2 linked regions of the Homo sapiens genome follow. The protein of the gene in region 2 interacts with the protein of the main gene of each other region in a pairwise test. Each region holds a gene or a part of one and is shown on either strand. Other genes may lie near its edges.

The links.
Region 1: the proteins of FMNL1 (region 2) and HMG20A interact in binary tests that used the Homo sapiens proteins (3 or more experiments, as listed by UniProt).

What each region holds. Positions count from the first base shown.
Region 1 is NC_000015.10:77,464,840-77,469,462, reverse strand, and holds part of HMG20A (high mobility group protein 20A), read right to left. Parts: intron 2,369-4,623; coding exon 2,156-2,368; intron 1-2,155. UniProt on the Homo sapiens protein: Plays a role in neuronal differentiation as chromatin-associated protein. Acts as inhibitor of HMG20B. Overcomes the repressive effects of the neuronal silencer REST and induces the activation of neuronal-specific genes.
Region 2 is NC_000017.11:45,223,660-45,229,193, forward strand, and holds part of FMNL1 (formin-like protein 1), read left to right. Parts: intron 1-5,534. UniProt on the Homo sapiens protein: May play a role in the control of cell motility and survival of macrophages. Plays a role in the regulation of cell morphology and cytoskeletal organization. Required in the cortical actin filament dynamics and cell shape.

The DNA.
Region 1 (4,623 bases), on a different chromosome or scaffold from region 2:
AGGTGGGAGGGGTGCTTGAGACCAGGAGGTCAAGGTTGCAGTAAGCCAAGATCTTGCTTAGATTAGAATGCTGAAGGCTACCTGGTAAATGTAAAGGGAGTGCTGGAGTTGGAAAAATCATCACGTTGTAACCATAATGATAAAGATTAAATCAGGCAAAAATAATCAATGGATGCTAAATCTAGGGGAAAATGTTGATGTAAAACAGGCTGTTTGTATGTTCTTAAATCGTCTCCCCATAGATTACTTATTAATGACAAAGGAGAATTTAAATAATGTACCAGGTAAGCAAAATTAACATTACTAGTGAGAAACAAAAGGACATTGTGTGCCTGCATATGTGACATATTGAGAACACACCACCACCTATGCAAGTAATCCCACCAAGAATGCGCAACCTCAATCTAATCACAAGGAAACATCTGAAAAATACACAATGAGCAATGTTCTGTTAAAGGTAAAAGCAGCGGGGGAAGCAGAAGGGAACTGTATTTTAAAAAAATATCAATGTTATAAAAGAAAAAGAAAGATTATGGAAATATCCCAGTTTAAGCTAAAGAAACTTGACTACTAAACACAAAACCTGACCCTAGACTGGAACCTGTTTTGGAAGGGAAAAATGTTATAAAGAAATGACATTCAGTCAACATATAGATGACAGATTAAAGCACTGTTAATGAAAAATTATGAAATTGATGACTACACTATGGTTATATAAGAAAATATTCTTTGACATACACACTGAAATATCCTGGGGGTAAAGGGCTACAATGTATATAATTTATCCTCACATGATTAAAACAAAATTTTGTGTGTGTCTGGGTGTACACATGCAAGTGTGTGTGTGTGTGTGTGTGTGTGTGTGACAGAGAGAGAGAGAGAGAGAGAGAAAGACTGAGCATGCAAAAGTATAAGAAAGACTGAGCATATAAGTGCATATGCAAATGGAGAAATGGAATAAAATGTGTTAACAATAGGTGAATCTGGGTAAAGAGTGTTGGGATGTTCTTTGTATTATTTTTATGTTTGTAACTTTTTGTGTATTTGAAATTATTTCCAAAAAAAGTTAAAAAAACAAAAACAAACACAAAACCTTTGTCCTACGTAATAGTGGTTATCCCAAGAAATAAGCACTGTTATTTTTACATTTTTGTTTATACATTTCTGTATTCTCTGAAAAGAGAATAATGAGCACATATTAATTTTAAAATAAAGAAAAAAAAGAAAAGAATAGCATAGTATGTACAGCCCACTATCCTTTTATACAGTAGCGCCAAAACAATGGATGATATTCACTGCTTTCTACTAGCTTGCTACCACAAACACAGAGCTTCAAAAGTTGCAACTGAATCTGATCTCTTTGAAAATTTCTGAATTCAATTAATTCCCAGGAGAGTATTTCTCCATTTGGTTTTAGTGTGTCTGGAATCCTTTTTAAAAAGTGTAAGTCATAAAAGAGTTTAAGACGTAAAAGAAATACAGATATCTTTCAGATGCTGGGAATGCTGGGAACTTTTAACCCAAAGCAGCTCCCACAACCATGACCACTGCTCAGCTTTAGTGGTACTTCAACCAGCTCATGGCTATCTTGTCCTTAATTCCTTTCAAATCTCTCTAATGAACGGATTCATTTCAGTTTGCCCATCAGGTTAGTTTCTGTCTTAGAGGAGAAAGAATTCAAGTTGTTCTTGCTTTATTTTCAATAGTAGGTTAATTTGCCAGAACTCTAGTTAAAAAAAGTATTAAAGCAGTAACATTTTTTCTTAAAAATCTTATGTGAACTGCAGAATTGTGTCAAGTGACTTTTTCTCATTTAATTCACGACTTTTCATTTAACTCAGTGGAATACATTTTATTGACAGATTTCTTAATACTGAACCACTTAAAACAATCTTATGTGAACTCAGCGTATAAAAAGTGGTGTTGCTTTGGTTGAGGGGAGTCCTAGACTCCTTCCCTGCTCACACCCCTCTAGCAAATAGTTTAAAAATCACTAGGCTAGAGAAAATTGCTATGATGGACCCTGCTATTCTGGTCTCCTAGGCACTGTGACAAAACTGCAGAATCAACTGTCCATCCTCTTTGCTTTTCTTATATAAGTTATTTCTGAGATATAATCAAAACCAAACAAAGAGTCAGGAATAGGAACAATTACCTGTTTTTCCTCAGGAGGCAGTTTACTCCATTCATTGCCTAACATCCTTGTGATTTCTGGAAATGGGACTTCTGGTCTCTTTGCTCGAAGTTGTTCTCGACGCTCATTCATGAACCGAACATATCCTGTAAGGGGGGATTTGGGTGCATTGCTGTCTCGAAGAGGTTTCTTCCTCTTTCTTCCTTTGGACCAACCTCCTCGTTTACTTCGTTGCTACAAAACAAAACAAAATAAAAAACCAAAAACCAAACAACAACCATCTCCCAAAATAACCCAACAACAACAAAAACAAACAACAACAAACAAAACAGGATTAAGAGTTGCAATTTGGCCCTGGATATTCAAAGCTCTCCACATCTGTTGTAGGTAATATACAAATGACAGCAATGCAATTTTTGAGGAACTCCAGATGCTTCACTTGCAACCTCTTTTATGTATCACACTACAAAATGTTACACTAAAGGGCTATTTTTGTGCTAATCTCAATGTATGAGAATAAGAGGTGCCATGATCACTCAGCTTTGACCTTCATATGCATATGACTGTCCCACAGACAACTGTCAGGTCCTGATTCCTGACAGGAGAGTATCCAAATGGGAAATACAGCAGCACATGCAGCATTGTGGCAGGGAGGCAGACATTGTCAGATTAGAGTAAGATGGTGTCACGTGCACCAGGCAAAAGAAGAAACAAGTTGTAGCAGAAATTAAAAATAACTCACAATGGGAGTTGCTCATTGATAACTTTCAAAGACTAGCTTATTTCCCATAGCAGATAGCAGATAGCATAGCATAGCAGATAGATACTAAATTAATATCTAAGTCTCAGAAAAATTTTAGTAAGTATAATATATCTGAAATGAAGACGAGCTCTTTGGCTTGACAATTTGTTCCTTTAGATGTACATTTTATTTTAATTTTTTTTTTGAGGTAGAGTTTTGCTCTTCTTGCCCAGGCTGTAGTGCAATGGCGCTATCTCGGCTCACCGCAACCTCCGCCTCCCAGGTTCAAGTGATTCTCCTGCCTTAGTCTTCCAAGTAGCTGGGATTACAGGCATGTGCCACCACACCCAGCTAATTTTTGTATTTTCAGTAGAGATGGGGTTTTGCCATGTTGATCAGGCTGGTCTCGAACTCCTGACCTCAGGTGATCCACCAGCCTCAGCCTCCCAAAGTGCTGGGATTATAGGCGTGATCCACTGCACCCGGCCTAGATGTACATTTTATAGTCAGAGGTCTTTATATGTTGAGTTACCAGGTAAATCAAAAGATTGAATCACCTCTGAAAAAAACTAAAGAAATGAAAAGGACTGAGGTACCACTGATGTTTCACCACAGCCTTTCTTCTTGGCCCTTTAAATAAGATGTAAGGTACATAATATTTTTACTTCATAATTTTACAAATACAGCCGTATCAGTTAATATTTCATGGATACAAGAATTCTTATTTCAGACAAGAGAAATATAAATAAACAAGGACAAAAATATCTAAATACTAATTGTAGTACTCTACTCCTCCAAATATATATAAAATGGTATAATTCACCACTGGGCAAATTATGTATTTGGTATTAGGTTTTTCTTTTTTTAAACCTAGTTACATTAAAGCTACTGTGGGCTGGCACGGTGGTTCACACCTGTAATCCCAGCACTTTGGAGGGCCAAGGCAGGCGGATCACTTGAGGTCAGAATTTCGAGACCAGCCTGGTCAACACGGAGAAACTCCATCTCCACTGAAAATACAAAATTGCCTGGGCATGATGGCATGTGCCTGTAATCCCAGATACTTGGGAAGCTGGGGCAGGAGAATAGCTTGAACCTGGGAGGCAGAGGTTGCAGTGAGCTGAAATTGTGCCACCGCACTCCAGCCTGAGCAACAGAATAAGACTCCACCTCAAAAAAAAAAAAACAAAAAACAACAGAACAATTTAATTTCAAGGTATTTAAGAAACTTTAAGCATTCATTATAATCTTTAAAAATGCCAATAGGATAGATAAAAAAAAATTAGTTGTTTTTTTCTTTCTTTTTTTTTTTTTTTTTTTTTTTTTGAGACGAAGTCTCGCTCTGTAGCCCAGGCTGGAGTTCAGTGGCGCTATCTTGGCTCACTGCAACCTCTGCCTCCGGGTTCAAGAGATTCTCCTGCTTCAGCCTCCTGAGCAGCTGGAATTACAGGCACACACCACTGCACCTGGCTAATTTTTTGTATTTTTTAGTAGAGACGGGGTTTCACCATGTTGGCCAGGCTAGTCTTGAACTCCTGACCTCAGGTAATCCACCTGCCTTGGCATCCCAAAGTGCTAGGATTACAGGCATGAGCTACCATGCCCGGCCAGCTTTTTTAAAATAAGAAAAAAGACAAAAATCAATGGTGGCACTCTTTATTGGCTTAAAAAAAAAAAAGAGTGCCTTAAAACACTGACAATGTAATCAGTTATTTGTAAGAAACACTGAAAGTCCAACAAGGGCATG
Region 2 (5,534 bases):
GGGGGAGAATGAGGAGACACAGTCTCTGGGGGCCATCTGGAGAGCCTGCATTGGTGGTGGGTCCTTGGACCCCTGCCAACCTGGTTGGAGGGACATGGGTCTGTCTTTCCGCCAAGTGTGTGTCTATGGTCGCGGGTGTGGGCTCTTGGGGTGAGGTCCTGACCCCAATCTTCTGTTTAGCACGCTGATGGGGAGGAGCCCTGTGAATAATTCAGACCAGGGGAAAATCCACAAGTCAAATGGTGAGGTTCTGATGTGTGTGTAGGACTTGTTTGCCCTGCTTGGATTTGTGGCTGTGATTGGCTGAGTCTGACACTAAATGCCACTGGGAGTCCCTGAGTACCAGGATGTGGAGGGGGGACACCCACAGGTGGGTCAGAGAGGGTGTGCTGGTGGAGAAAGTGGAGGTGCCTAGCAGAAATTTAGGGTAGCAGCACCCACCAGGGCTTACCCCCTACCAGGTGCCCAGGAACCCCAGTGTGTTTATACCTTCTTCCCGGGGTGGCTCAGCCTGTCTTATATCCTGTTGTGGGCAGGTTAAACCCAATCTAAGGACACTTGGCTAAGACCCTGGTTCCTCTCATTCCCCACCAGCAGGGGCATGAGGCTTGCCCCAGGGTGACAACCTTGACCTCTGCCTGAGGCTGCCCAGGGCTAAAGAGTTGGTTCAACCCTCAGGTCTGGCAGTGTGTATCGCAGAGTTGGTCGCTATGTGAACCCCCACCCGAACCACCATGGCCAGAGCTGAGTCCTGTCCTCGGTCAGTGTCTAAGAGGAGAAGAACCTTAGATTGCTGAGGGGAGGGGCCCACCGCCATCAGTGGTCCCCAGTCTCAATGGGAGAAGCACAGTCCTGCCCTCAGGGATGTAGTCCAGCGGCCCCAGGGAACCTCTTCCTTCCCCTTTTGTCCCTGGTGGGGCATAGGATCCTGATACCCCAAACTCTCCTTCCTCTCCTGGCTGTAGGACCTCTCTTGTGGGTGAGGGGTGTCCCCACTTACAGCCAGACAGGAGGTGCAGGGAGCCCTTCTCCCATGCAAGGGTGGGTGGTGGGGGGCTACCTTTCCAAGAAAGCTGTGAAAGAAAGGGGTGCCCCCTGCTTAAAATGGGGGTGGAGAGAAAGAGCAGGTTGAGCCAGGGTTTCCGGCTGCTGCCTTAGCAACAGCAGAGGAGCGATGGCTGCCCAGCCCCACGGGCCTGCTGTGATGGTGGGAACACCAGCCAGCGGGGCGCCAAGCTCTCGCCTCTCCTACGCCCATGCCCAAGGCTGGGTGTCTTCCAGCCCCTTCATGCCTTCCCCTGGGAGGCACGCAGGGTCAGGGACTGGGATGACAAGGCGACCTTTCCAGGCCTGCCAGAAGAGCCACACTTACACCTGGGCCTGGGACACCCCTGATCTGCCGGGCAGGGAGAATCCCATAACCTTGGGGCAGAGGGATCAAGGGAAGGTGTCAGGGGTGGTGTACGTGAGGCCAAAAGCCATGCTGGCATCCAGTAGCAGTGGAGAGGAATTTGCCTGATGGGTGCTCTTGGCTTGTGCCCAGAGGCCTGGGTGCCTGGCCAGGCTGTGTGGGGAGGTCAGGATGGCCCCATGTTGGGTGTGGGCCTGGAGTCCTGCTTGCAGCTGGGGCCCTTCCCTTCTGGGGCTGGCAGTAAAGGGCAGGAGGGACTGCAACTGAGGCACTGCCCCCTGGCCACTCCCACCTCCGGGACAGGGCAGATGAAGTGTGGGGACCTGGAGCCATGGGGTCGCTCAGGCCTTATGCCTGCCATTTGCAGGACAGAGGATCTCCGGGGGGATGTGGCCATGTGGTCTGATGTTGGGCTGGGCAGAGGGGAGGGGTGACATTCCCAGCAGGCAGGGCTGGCACATACTAACCCTGGAAAGCCACGGATGTGGTGGGCATGATTCACAGTGACATCTGGGGCTGACTGGCAGAGAGCTGGGTGAGACGGGTAGAAGCAGGTGCTCTCAGGGCTACCTCTGCCTTTTTCCTGGGAACATGGAGCCCTGGAAGGTGGCTTGGGGGGCCTTTGAGGGGACAGGGGTTACTTATGGGAAAGGCAGGGACGTTTCCTGAGCTTTGGGGTCATGATGTTTGGGGGTTGAGATTCATTTTTGTCACTACCTGCATGGCCCTGGACAAGTTACTTAACTTCTCTGAGCTGTAGTTTCCCTCACCTGTAAAAAGAGAATAATAATGGCATCTGCTGGCCTCCTAGGATTGTCGAGAGGGTGAAATAGAGGACTTCGCACAGTGCCTGACACAGAGCAGATGCTCAGTAACCCCCCTCCACTGTGAGAAAGGGGATAAAGCTGGAGCTGATCTGGTCCTCTCCATCTCAGGGCCCATTTAGCGGAGGGAGCCCAGACCCTGCCTGTCCCCTCCCTCCACCTCCACTACCAAGAGCACCCAAGGTTACTGTGCACTCCCCAGGAGCCCCAGATCCTTAGCTAGTGAGGGCCAGGCAACCTCCCCACCGTTATGCAGGTCACCAGCAGTGGGGCCCAGACCGAAAACTGCCTGGTGGCCGGAAACCGCTGGAGGGAGGGCCTACCTCTCCTGGAGGGTGGGGCAGCGATGGTGCTAACGGTAGCAGTGTGCACATGGGAGGGGGAGGGGAGGCCTCCACTTCCCCCTGAGAGAGGGTGTGCTGGTGGGGGGGTTCCCCAGTGAGTAAGAGCTCTGTGTGGGCAACAACAGGAAGCGTGGGGCGCTGGGTGGCAGGAAGTGGAGCTGGCTGTTCCTGGTTCCTCAGATGGGGGATCTGGGCCAGGCTGTCTGCAGAAGACCCCTGGGGGCCAGGACCCACATTTCCCATTCCCCGGCTGCTCCTTCTTTGGAGGAAGCCGGGTCTTCCTTGCTAGCTTGCCACCGAGGCCACCCTGGGCAAGCACCTTAACCTCCTTGAGTCTCAGTTTCCCATTTGTGAAATAGGGATTATAACAGTATCTATTTTGTAGGCTTGTTGAGGTTTAAATGAGTTTTGATGTAAAGTGCTTAGAACGGCACCTAGCACCCAGTGTTTGGGATTGAGAGATTAATTCTGAGTGAAAAAAAGTGTCTGGGGAGCGTTTGTTATTGTTACTGTTGTCGGTGTTGTTTTCCTCCTACCAGCCTGGATGATATAGGTAGTGGCTTCCACCCTGCTTGCCCTTGTCCCAGCTGTGGGGACCCTTGAACTCTGATGGGAGAAGCTGTTAGCTCTTTGGGTCCTCAGCACCTGATCCTGGGGCTGGGTCTCCTCATAGATCTCCTGTAAGCCTGGAATTGCTTATAAGAGCCCCAGAAAATCTATATGCCAAAGTTTAAAAAAGGAGGTAAAATTGATTGTGTTTGGATATGTGCCGAGAACACTACAACTAAGGTTGAGACCATATAGAGGTGGGCAGGTGGCAGGGAGATGGATGGGGGAGTGGGGGCTGGGGGACAGGCTCAGCTTCTGGGCCCATCGGGCTGAGGAAAGCCTGTGGGGCTGGCCTGAGACTGGGATTGATGTCCAAGTTCAGGGGTACCCTGGGGCTTGAAGGGCTAGGCCATAGGGAGAGATGGGCAGGTGGACTGAGACGTAGGCTCCGCTCAAACTGAAAGTGAAACCCTAGGGTGTGGCTGTGTCCAGATGTGGACGCAGCCCCTTCAGCCTCCTGGGACACTGTCTCAGAAGTAAGCACTGGTGTGGGGGAGGTGGGGGAAGGGCTCTTAGCAGTGTCTTTTGGGGGCTGGTCTTAGGTGAGCAGATGCTGGGGGTCCCCTCTCACACTCAGGGCAGGGAGGGAGGAGAATGGTCCCCACACATTCTAATAGAAAGATGTGGGGAATCAGTTCCTTTTCTCGGCCACACCCTAAAAGATGAATCCTGTCTCTTTCCTCATCTGGCCCAAAGCACTAAAGGCAGCAGGGAAAGTAGGCTGAGGCTAGTTAAGGTTTGGCCAAAGCCTTGGAGACAAGTCTGTGTTTCTGGATGTTTTCACAAACTTCTGCTCACCCTACCATCCCCTACCCTGGGGTCTTCCATGGACCCCTGCCCCTCCACCTCTTCTGCCTCTGTGAAGTGCTTCTTCATAGTGTTAGGCCACTGAAGAGCTTTGTTAAATCCAAACTCAGCTTCTCACTGAGTGTTCCAGGAGCTCCGTGAGTGTGAGGCTCCGGTGAGGGAGTGCGCCCATTTTATGGAGGAGGAAGCTGAGGTCCAAGGGGGCAAAGAAGCTGTAGGGCTAGTTGGGCCCAGAGCCTGGGTCTTTTGAAGCCAGCTCCAGGTCCTCCATGTGGCAGCTCATAGCTGTCCCTCCCTGCCCCCCTCAGGAGGCAGGTATCCCGCCCACCTGGACTGCCAGCCCCTCCCCTCCTACTTGAGCACTGTCAGCCAACTCTCCGTGTGTCCCCCAGCCCCCCATCCCATGGTGCTGCTGCCTCGCTGAAGGCCCTGGTCTGGGGGTCTGTTCCTGTTTTCAGGGTGGCCTCACTCCACCCCGAGTGAGTGGCATCTGATGGCCCCTCTCCTACTCCCTGGAGTGCCTGGCTCCTCGGTGGGCACAGCCACAGCTGAGGAGCAGCTGCTAATTAGTGTTCGGCGCTGTCAGAGCTATTTCTGATTTCTGAGCCTAAATTTAGCCTGTCTGGCAGGCTGGCATGTGGGCCTGGGGGCCTGAGAAGGCCCAGGTGGGGAAGGGGCATGGGCACCCTGCCCTCCACCACTGTTCAGACAGGTGCTCCAGGCCCCAGCAGAGGCCTCCCCTCGGCAGTAACAACCAGGGGGCTGTCCTGGGGGAGTGGACCCAGGTGGTGGCTCAGAGTCAGCTCCAGGCTCAAAGCCAGCCCAGCTCTCCTCTTACTGGCTTCGTAACCTTGGGCAGGTCACTAAACTAATCTGTGCCTGCACCTGTGAGGTGGGAATGTTAACGGTGCCAGTGACGGCAGTGAGGGTGGAAGGCAGTCGTCGGCGCGCAGGGCTCGGAGCAGTGCCTTGCACAGTAGGCATTCTGGTGGAGCTGGCCACCTGACTGTTGGAGATGTCATTATGACTAGTTACTGCCCCTAGAAATGCCGCTGGGGCCATTCCAGAACCATAAAGTTCCCTGGGTGGGTGAGGGCCTGGGAGGATTCATGTCGGGAAGCAGCTGTCCCCTCTGTGGCTCTGTGCTGGGCTCAGCCATCCCCTTACTCCCTGGCCACCGTCTTTTGTGCCGGCCACGGCTCCAGTTTCCCTGGCACTGCTGGCCCTGTCTCTCCTCTTTGTCCCTTTTCTCCACCTTGCTCCCACCTTAGCCCTGCCCCACCCTTTGTCTCTGTGGGGTGGGGGTGACTGAGAGACATCATCGAGAGAGACAGACAGATGGACAGGGACAGAGAGACAGAGAATGACCTCGCCTCCTTTGTACTCCTGGGCGGTTCCCCCACCCCCTGCCCCTGTGGTAGCAGGAGCTGTCCTGGCCCTTGGAGGGCTGGGGGAGGGCGGCTGATGAGACAGCGGTGGTTTCCTCAATCCAGGCTCACTTTCGCAATAGGGGAGAGGAATGACGTATTCCACCCCCTT